Linked DNA regions of Homo sapiens. The protein of the gene in region 3 purifies or fractionates together with the protein of the main gene of each other region. This does not show direct contact. Each region holds a gene or a part of one and is shown on either strand. Other genes may lie near its edges. The genes, in order: UBE4B, UBL7 and OR7A5.

Region 1 (3,655 bases), on a different chromosome or scaffold from region 3:
AAAGGAGAATCATTTCAGTTCAAGTATATCTAGCAGATAAACATCTAAATAATTATAATCTAATTGCCCTATTGATCTAGAGGCTATACTTACAAGACGATAAAGTCCCCATTCGAAGAATGATGTAGTATACACAGCCAACTGCTTCTAAAATTTCATCTAGCAATATCTTAACCATAGAGAGCCAAAAAATAATAATCTAGAAAAGAGAATTCCACTTCCAATGACTAAATCCACCTCCCCAAATATGATATATGCCATACCCTGTATGACACTGATTAACACTGTCAACAAACATTCCCTTCTCCTACGTAGTTCACAGTTATTTTACTACCAGTAAGATGTGCAAAGAGAACCACACTGACCTAGACAAAGAGCTGGCACCAAAGGAAGCCACGCTGCAGAACATGGGGCTTGTTCCTGGATTGGAGCCAGTGTTTAGCAAGAGATTTCTGTCTGGTGACCGTGCTGCTGCAGCAATTGGCTGTGATGTGGCTGTCAGACTGGCAAATGGGTTTTCATCTCTGGTCTGAGTGGACATCATTAGCACTTCCATTAAAATCTGGCCAATCAAGTCCTTAAAATCGGAGAATACTGTTGGAAAGGCAGAACAAAGAACAGGTTACACACAGTTCGAACACAGGTTACACAGCCCTTGAATAAGCCAGCTGACCCCAAATGGTTCGATGCAGTATCCTGGATTAGATTCTGGAATGGTAAAAGGATATTAGTGGAAAACCTAAATAAAGCCTTGTGTTTAGTTAGTAGTAATTTCTTAGTTTTGACAAATGTACCATGGTTATATAAGATATTAACGTCAGGGGAAACTGGGTAAAGTATATATAGGAACTCCCTGCACTAACTGAAACTATTCCAAAATTAAAAGTTTATTAAAAAGAAAGTTGGGGTACAGTCATTGAGAGTTACCGCTGATGTATATTAATTGTAAAAAGAAGCTACTCCCAACTATAGAGGTTACTTTATTATACTACAAATGCAACTGGGTTAATATTTCTTAGTCTAGATATGTTTTATAGATAGTAATAAAACTATTAAGTCCAAGGTTCAAAAGATTTTATGAAGGGTCCAACATCTAGTCACCATGTGGCTTTCAGGAGCAAATGCTACATTCTAGCTTCCTTCTTATTCTTTGCAGCTCCCAGTTGATTTACTGTTGGTCTTTAGATACATTTTAAATACCACTAAACAAAAGTTTTAACTCATGGAAATTTTATCTGATTTGGTTATTTAAAATTGCCACTTACATGTGTAAGACAGAGTTGCCACTTAACATGTGTAAGACACTTGTTTTAACAAAAGTTTTAACTCATGGAAATTTTATCTGATTTGGTTATTTAAAATTGCCACTTACATGTGTAAGACAGATTTGCCACTTACATGTGTAAGACAGAGAATCTTAAGATTTATAATAAGAATAACAAGTAGCAGAGTTTCAAATACATGGTCTGCTCCATTAGCAGAGTTAATAAGTAAAATCAGAAATAGTCTTATCTATCCTCCAGAAATACAAAGGACTTTTTTTTTCCCTCCTCAGAAGATAGGCAGCATAGAAAAGAGAAAGGTGATCTCCTTGATATTCACGCATCCATTTAAAATCTATCTATTGAGGGACTATTTTGTGCAAGATATCCTTCTAGGGATACATCAATGAGTAAAACAGACAAAAATCCCTACCATGAGGGAAGTTACATTCCAGTGATAGGCCAAAAAAACCACTCCAGCACACCTCCCATACCTCTTCTGCGTTCCAAATGACTACTGTAAAGAAAAAGGATAGTGCCCTATGATGCTGATATCTTGCTAAGAGTTTTATTATTTTGTTACAAGCTTGGCCTCTTAAAGTGGAATATCAGAAACACAGCAAAATGTCATTATGTTCTATCTTGCTAAGCAATTTAACCAAATAGACCAATTCCACCGTCTATACATGGCTTCATAGGCACTTAAAGCAGGTATAGCTCATACAGAACACTTCTCTCAGGATCCCTGGAGACCACCCACTATATCTATACTTCATAAGAGGAGGTAAGGCCAGGCTCGGTGGCTCAAGCCTGTAATCCCAGCACTTTGGGAGGCCGAGGCAGGCAGATCACGAGGTCAAGAGATCGAGACCATCCTGGCCAACATGGTGAAATCCTGTCTCTACTAAAACTACAAAAATGAGGCCAGGCACGGTGGCTCATGCCTGTAATCCCAGCACTTTGGGAGGCCAAGGCGGGCGGATCACGAGATCAGGAGATCGAGACCGTCCTGGCCAACATGGTGAAACCCTGTCTCTACTAAAAATACAAGAATTAGCTGGGTGTGGTGGCGCATGCCTGTAATCCCAACTCGGGAGGCTGAGGCTGGAGAATTGCTTGAACCCAGGAGGTGGGAGTTGCAGTGAGCCAAGACTGCGCCACTGCACTCCAGCCTGGTGCCAGAGCAAGACTCTGTCTCAAAAAAAAAAAAAAAAACAAAAACAAAACAAACAAAAAAAACTACAAAAATTAGCTGGGCGTGGTGGTGCACGCCTGTAGTCCCAGCTACTCCAGTGGCCGAGGCAGAAGAATCACTTGAACTCGGGAGGCAGAAGTTGCAGTCAGCTGAGATCATGCCACTGCACTCCAGCCTGGTGATAGGGTGAGATTCCATCTCAAAATAAATAAATAAATAAATAAATAAATAAATAAATAAATAAATAAATAAAGAGGAGGTAATGCTCTAAGCACCTTCTTACTACAAAGAGAAAAACTTCAACCCTGAGAAAATGGAGACCATTAACCTATTTACATAGTATTATAGAAATCATGGAAATGAAAAATAAGTTATCGATAAGATCAGTGGAAAGGGAAGAAAGTGGCTAAACAATTGTGTCCTCATCAAGAAGTATCCCTGTCATCAAAAATACAACCCAAGAGCAAGATGGAGTGAATGTGGATAACAGAGGGCAAAGATCTCACATCTTATTTTCTTGTCGAGTACTCTGCAGTAAGACTGCTGAGCTAGATTCCTACCTTCTTTTGGGTTCTGCTTAAACTGTGCAGAAAGAGAAGAAAGAAAGATGACATCTCTGTCCCGGTCCTTCCAAGAGACACGGAAGATCTTACAGACCAGCTGTAAGGCCTGCTCTTCAGACACTTCAGGGCCCGAGGAAGGCTCCTGGTGAAGAAGAAGATTTGCAGGTTAATTTCAAATAAGAGGTATGAGTTAGGTGTTTCAATAGGAATACGTTATTCTGATTTAATTCATTATTAGTGATGATATTTTAAAAATGCATGAAACCATTCACCCACTGATTAGGGGAAAAGTAAGCCTATTCCTATAACATCAAAGTTACAACATCTAAGTCTCATGAGCTTACAATACAATCTATGGGGAGCATAAAAGAGCAAAGATGGCCGGGCGTGGTGGCTCACACCTGTAATCCCAGCATTCTGGAAGGCCGAGGCCAGTGGATCACCTGAGGTCAGGAGCTCAAGACCAGCCTGGCCAACATGGTGAAACCCTGTCTCTACTAAAAATACAAAAATTAGCCAGGCGCGGTTGCGGGCCTGGCTACTCGGAGCTACTTGGGAGGCTGAGGCAGGAGAATCGCTTGAACCCAGGAGGCGGAGGTTGTGGTGAACCAAGATCACGCCATTGCACTCCAGCC
Region 2 (2,997 bases), on a different chromosome or scaffold from region 3:
CGAAGCTCTGAGGCCTGGATTCTGGAATCATTACAGAACAAGCATCAAAAAATGCTTGGTGAGAATAGACTGGTGGGGTGGACAAAGAAATCTGTGGAAGCCATTGAGAGAGAGAGAAATGTGGAAGGCAAGCTGCCTCCATGTGCTTCCCCTGAAAGTCCACCCAGCCACTCCATAGACTGGACATCTCGGAAGCATAAGCCTCTTCTGGGCACAGCTGTAATCCAGCAGCCACCCTGAAGATTGGGTGATAGCTCTGCCTAGACTTCGGCACATCCTGAGGCTCCCAAACTCCAAAGCCCCAGAGAGTCTGGGGGCTACGGCTGGAAACTTCTCCCAGAAGTTAACATGGGTATCTCACAGCATCCCATGATGTAGGGTCTAACATCCTCCATCCAGGGCCCAGAACTAGGGGCCAGCCCTGCTTTGATGCCACAGCATCAAGACCAGCACACCTTGTTTGCCCCACTGCCTCCACCAACTCAGATCAGCCAGAAAGGTCAAGAACTGGACAAAGCAGGAGAGTTGACCATCAGGTATATTGGGGAAGGGAGAGATGGAGGCACCTTCATGAGTGCCTCCCAAGGGCAGTAGCCTCTGCAACTTGCTGGGGGTTCAGGGGAAGCAGGGAGTTCATGGGGCTCCTCCAGCAAAGATGAGCTCCAGGGCTGCTTGGATGTCCCCACCGGTGGCCTGCAGGGCCCGCAGGCTCAGCTCATCGTCCTGGATGCCCATGTCACGTAGCTGCTGCAGCTGGGGCTGCCACTGGCTCTGTGGAAAGATAGGAATGGGCAGAAGCTGTTAGCTGGGATCCAGTGAAGACTCACTTAGGTCTGTGCTTTCCGGGGAAGGAAAGGAAGATGGGGGAGTCCTCAGCAAAGCTGCTGATGCTGAGTTCCACAGAACACGGTGCTTCTAGGAAGACTAAAAGATAGGCTTGAGGGTTAAGAGAACAAATCCAAAGTTTTACAATAAAAAAAGGAAATTCTTGGCATAAGGATCAAAAGAGAATGTACAAATTATTCACTGTCTGAATTCCAAGAGGCTAAATTACTTTCTTTCTCTTGCTATGTGTACACACACAACAGCAAGATTTTGCTCTTTATGTGATGAGTGTTACAGATTTTTTTCCCAGTTTGTTAGCCTTTGGACTTTGCTTCGGTTTTTTGTTTGGTTTGGTTTGCCACGCAGAAATTTTCACCTTTTTTTAAATGTCTTAAATTTTTGTGGTATATAGTAGGTATATCTATTTGTGGACTGTAAGAGATGTTTTAAATTTTTCGCTTTTACAAACCCAAAATGCATAACTTTTATTTAATGGCTCCTGGATACTGAGTTTCAGCCAAGAAAGCCCTTCCCTACTATAAGGATTTGAAGAAATTCACCCATATTTTCTTCTAGTACTTTCATAGCTTCATTAATATCTCTATTTCATGACAGCAGGGATGAGCACAATTTAGGGAAAACAACGTGTTCACATGTGGGAAGAAGGCAATGCAAAGGGGAAGAAAAGCAAAGTCAAAGAGGCAGGCAGTGATGAGAACATGGAGGGCTTAAAAAAAATGCACACAGATCAATTTGAATTCATTTTACAGGCCAGGTGGAACCAGTGAAAGCTTCTGAGCTAGGGAATAAAGTAAACAGGCATCTAGCAACAGGGGAGATGCAAGAATGGAGAAGACAAGTTGTTCACGAATCCTGCTTCTGTTCCCTCACTGTCTACAAGGACCACATGGAACAGTGAAAACCACACAGGCTTGAACCCTATCGTTACGACTTCATGGCCTTATGACCCCAGACAAGTTCCAGGGATGATGCTCTACCCATAGGCTTACTATGTGGAATAGAGGAAAACAGACGTGAACCAAACTGCTCATGCATGGAGCTGTGAACTACAATGCTGGCCCCTCAGGTATTCCACTTAGCTGCTAGGGTGACCTTTCTCCTCCTTAAAGCCTCCCATGGGCCAGGTGTGGTGGCTCACACCTGTAATCCCAGAACTCTGGGAGGCTAAGGTGGGTGAATCGCTTGAGCCCAAGAGTTCAAGACCAGGCTGGGCAACATAGGGAGACCCCCCCATCTCTACAAAAAATACAAAAAATTAGCCAGGCATGGTGGTGCATACCTGTAGTCCCAGCTACCCGGGAGGCTGAGGTGGGAGGATCACCTGAGCCCAGGAAGTTGAGGCTACAGTAAGTTGTGATCACACCACTGTACTCCAGCCTGGGTGACAGAGTGACACCCTGTCTCAATCAATCAATCAATCAATCAATGCCTCCCAGGGATCCCTGGTGACTGCTACATCAAGTCATCAAGTCTAATCTCCGCAGGTTGGCATGCAAGCCCCTCTCGTAGGCTCCTGCTCTTTCTCTGGCCCCATCTGCGGATCTTCTACACTGGACACTGCATCCTAGCCTTGTAGTTTTGAGTATGTCACATATACCTCCACACATGTGCACAAACAGGTAGCTGTCTTCACCTGGAAATCAGCCCCTTCCTACCTCAAACCCCCTTCCCTGGCTAGCTAACTTCTAACTAATTCTTCTGACAATCAGCTTAAATACCCCTCTCTCAGAAAAGTTTTGTCTGACCTAGGCCCTTACTTCAAGCAGCTGGGTTTCTTGCCTTGTTGCTCCCCAGCTCAGTGCCTGCCTGGTGCCCCTCCATGGCAGGGATGAGAACCAGCTTGCCACTAGCCCAGCATCTGGACTCAGGCCTAGTATACACATGCTCAGTCAATGATCACTGAATGAATGAATGAAATGGCCATGATTATCTAAGCCAGGTGGTCTAGGGAGTCAGGCCATGGTCACTAGGGGCAGGAGAAGCCTAGTGACCACTGTGTATGGTCTGAGAGTGTGCCCTTGCTAGGAACACTCTGCACCTGTCCCACTGCCATGCTCCAGCTGTTCCTAGAATGAAGCATGCCAGGTGTGAAGGACCGCCAGAGAGCAAAACAAAGGCTGGGCATCCAAAATAACAAGGAAGCCACATGGA
Region 3 (4,157 bases):
CTCCTGAGTAGCTGGGACTACAGGCGTATGCCACCATGCCCAGGTAATTTTTACATTTTTAGTAGAGACGGGGTCTCACCGTGTTGGCCAGGCTGGTCTCGAACTCCGGCCTCAGGTTATCTGCCTGCCTTAGCCTCCCAAAGTGCTGGGATTACAAGTGTGAGCCACCACATGCAGCCTCATTCCTGTTTTTAAACTACTGGCCTCAAGCATGAGAACTGAAAACATCATGAAGGAGTTTCAACCATTCATCCCTTTCTTGGTTTATAATGTTGAGCAGATCACTGAATCTTTCTGAGCCCCATTACTGCATACGTAGAATGATGCTCATGACAGTACCGACCACATAAAATAAACATTTATAAACATTAGATAAAATAATCCTTATAAGGTGCCATTCTCAGGACAATGTGCATAAAAGGGTCTAAATATATCTCTTGTAATTGGTACACATTTTATCAATGAAGAACTAAAAGACAGTTCTTAATTTGTCTGACAAGCATTAAATTACAAATTGTTTTGGTGAAAACATCATGAAGCCAAGGAGTACAGCCAAGCCATGATTTATATCAAAGGAACACAGTACTCCCTCTAGTTGAAGAATGAGATGGAAATTTTCAGATGTTGGGCCAGGCACAGTGGCTCACGCCTGTAATCCCAGCACTTTGGGAGGCCAAGGCGGGTGGATGACCTGAGGTCAGGAGTTCGAGACCAGCCTGGCCAACATGACAAAACCCCTTCTCTACTAAAAATATAAAAATTAGCTGGGCATGGGGGTGAGCACCTGTAGTTCCAGCTACTCGGGAGGCTGAGGCAGAAGAATCACTTGAACCCAGGAGGCGGAGGTTGCAGTGAGCTGAGATCACACCACTGCACTCCAGCCTGGGTGACACAGTGAGACTCCGTCTCAAAAAAAAAAGAGAAATTTTCTTATGGTATCAGAGGCTGTATTCCCACAATAAGTCGATGCTTTGGAGATTTAAGGGGAGTAGGCAAGATGGGTTTCTCAGTCTTAGATGTGAAGAAAACTTTGTCTCAGGATTGGGACAGTTGTTACAAAGTTAGACTTCTGGAAGAAAGGAGAGTTCATGTTGAAAGAGTAAGAAAGACTGGTTCATCCAGTCTCTTGGGAACAGAGAATCTGCAGGATTTTTTTTCTTTCTGTGCAAAACAATGTCCCACAGGGACATAATGTACTCAGGGTTTCAAATAACAAGAAGAAATGTGCCTATTGAGCAGATGTGGGAAGCTATAAATATTTCATCTGCTGTTGTCCCTCAGGCACCCCTGGGTTGAATGGAATATCATTGTTTCTTTTGAAGTCCTAAGTCTAGCTCAGAGACAGATGCTTGACTCTTTCCTGCTGCCTAGTCTGCTGAGCAGAGCTTCAGTCTCCACCATCAATCATCCAGTGAGGAATTTGCACTTACACAAGGAACTCTTCCTCGGAGAGATCCCCTCCTGGTGAGTTGGAGAGCCCAGTGGGAACTGCAGGAAAACAATAGATGGAATAGATGCAGAGAATATTTACCTGAGATCACCTGAGAGCCAGTCCAGCCTAGCCCAGAGCCAAGATATTGCTGCGGTTATTTGCTTGGTTGATTAATTAACTAAGTAATGTCTCGTTTTATGATGCAAAAAAAGAAAAGTGAACACTGAACTAGGCAATGCAAGGGTGACGACTATTGACATTTAGTGAAGGTCACAGAAGCCCAATTAGAAGGAATAGGAGGTGTAAAATGATTTTTGTAAAAGTACAACATACATCTTTGTAATTAAGGGGAGTAGAGAAATCGTGTATTGGCTGTGGAGGGATATACAGTCATGTAAAGACATTTCCTTTTTACTTTTAAAATGGAGCATATTTCAGTTTGATTCTATGCCCGTGAGAAAAATCCAGATGAACGGATTGCTTGCAAATACCATTTTGCAACAGCAGTTCATAATGCGTATATTTTGCAGGATTTTCTCTTACGCTAGGTATTCAGATAATACAAAATATTTAATAGGTGAGAGACTATGTACTAATGAGCTGTACTTGCATTTATTTCCTCACTTGCGTGGCTGAATATATTTGTGTGTTGTTTAGGCCTGTGATTTGATGCTTCTAAACAACTCACAGTGTATAGGATAGACTTTATCAAAGAGAGTGATCTAGCCCAGAATATCAATAGTGCTGAGATTGAGAAACACTGTGGCGAGGAATATCTGCTGGCTTCCTGGTTTTTGGAGTTTTGTTGTTTGTTTGTTTTTTCTTTGAGACAGAGCCTCACTCTGTCGTGCAAGCCTCTGTCCATGCTACTACTGGAATGCAGTAGCATGATCTCAGCTCACTGCTGCCTCAACCTCCTTGGCTCCGGTGATCCTCCCACCTCAGTCTCCCAAGTAGCTGGAACTACTGGTGTGCACCACCATGCTAGGCTAATTTTTGTATTTCTTTTGTAGAGATGGAGTTTCACCACGTTGTCCAGGCTGGTCTCGAACTCCTGGGCTCAAGCAATTTACTTGCCTCAGCCTCCCAAAGTGCTAGGATTGCAGACGTGTGCCACCACGCCCAGCCTGTATGTGTTTTTAATATTTTATCTGTCTGGAGATTGTTTCCACAAGACATTATGACACTTATTTCTGTCACCAAAATTAGAGTACCCGTTTGCCATCTGTTTAAAAATTCCAACACAAATCTATGACAGCTGAGAAAGTTCCCCACTCCATCCCCGCTCAGGCTGATGGACGTGAGATTTCTTACTGTTTTCTTAAAATATTACTGACTTTGAGCAAATATTCATATATTTGATCAAGATCTTGATTGCCTTATGTTTACTATATGCCCATTTTTATACAGTTACCAGCGTTTAAAATTATTTTTTTCAATGATTCTTTTTCAGTTGACTTTTGGGGAAATTTATTAGCCATAAAAAGTTTAAAATATTCTTTAGTTAAATATATACCTATCATCTTACTTCTGCAATTATTGCCTTAGTTAAGGTGATTTGCCCACCCACAGATTTCATATGTAGTTTCCCTGTTTTCATGGAAAAGGCATTGTTTACTTTTTTTTTGAGACGGAGTCTCGCCCTGTCAACCAGGATGGAATGCAGTGGTGCGATCTTGGCTCACTGCAACCTTCGCTTCCTGGATCCAAGCGATTCTCCCACCTCAGCCTCCTGAGTAGCTTGGACTGCAGGCAAGTGCCACCATACCCATCTAATTTTTGTATTTTTGGTAGAGATGGCGTTTCGCCATATTGCCCAGGCTGGTCTTGAACTCCCGACCTCAAGTGATCCACCCACCTGGACCTTCCAAACTGCTGGGATTACAGGCATGAGCCACCGTACCTGGCCGATATTGAAGTTTTTAATTCCTCTGACTTTGTGTAAGATGTGTGAGGTAGGTGACCAATTTTATTTATTCCAGACAAATAGCTGTTTATGACAGCATTTATTTAAATATCCAATCCTTTCTAACTAAATTGAAATACAAGCTTGCTGTATATTAAATGCCCATGTATACTGAGAACAAAGTCCTGATTCATTCAGCAAATAATAACTGAGCATCTGCTCTGTGCAAGAGTTTTTTATGAACAGTGTATGCCATATTCTTTTATATCTAGATTTTTGCCAATTTATTAATTTATGTTGATATGATTAAATTATTATTATAGCATGTCAGTTAATTTTCAATACTTCAACAATTTTATTCACTACAGTTGATTATATTTAACCTGGTTTTATTCTCCTGCCATTCTTTCTAATTTTATAATTCTTTTTTTAATAATGCATACATCGTCACATCTTTTTATGAAAATATGAAGGTAGCCAGGCACTGTGGCTCAGGCCTGTAATCCCAACACTTTGGGAGGCCGAGGTGGGTGGATCACGGGGTCAGGAGATCGAGACCATCCTGGCCAACATGGTGAAACCCCGACTCTATTAAAAATACAAAAATTAGCCAGGTGTTGTGGCTCATGACTGTAATCCCAGCTACTTGGGAGGTTGAGGCAGGAGAATCGCTTGAACCCAGGAGGCGGAGGTTGCCAGTCAGCCGAGATCGCGCCACTGCACTCCAGCCTGGTGACAGAGCAAGGCTCCATTAAAAAAAAAAAAGAAAAGAAAAAAGAAAGAAAGAGAGAGAGAAGGAAGGAAGGGAGGGAGGGAGGG

Evidence for each region.
Region 1: the proteins of OR7A5 (region 3) and UBE4B purify together in Homo sapiens (affinity purification with mass spectrometry; one large-scale study listed by BioGRID and IntAct). This does not show direct contact.
Region 2: the proteins of OR7A5 (region 3) and UBL7 purify together in Homo sapiens (affinity purification with mass spectrometry; one large-scale study listed by BioGRID and IntAct). This does not show direct contact.

What each region holds. Positions count from the first base shown.
Region 1 is NC_000001.11:10,102,455-10,106,109, reverse strand, and holds part of UBE4B (ubiquitin conjugation factor E4 B), read right to left. Parts: intron 3,163-3,655; coding exon 3,018-3,162; intron 595-3,017; coding exon 366-594; intron 1-365. UniProt on the Homo sapiens protein: Ubiquitin-protein ligase that probably functions as an E3 ligase in conjunction with specific E1 and E2 ligases. May also function as an E4 ligase mediating the assembly of polyubiquitin chains on substrates ubiquitinated by another E3 ubiquitin ligase.
Region 2 is NC_000015.10:74,445,457-74,448,453, forward strand, and holds the end of UBL7 (ubiquitin-like protein 7), read right to left. Parts: intron 772-2,997; coding exon 634-771; 3' UTR 521-633; downstream 1-520.
Region 3 is NC_000019.10:14,832,381-14,836,537, reverse strand, and holds the start of OR7A5 (olfactory receptor 7A5), read left to right. Parts: upstream 1-1,352; 5' UTR 1,353-1,464; intron 1,465-2,445; exon of another isoform or gene 2,446-2,561; intron 2,562-3,226; exon of another isoform or gene 3,227-3,387; intron 3,388-4,157.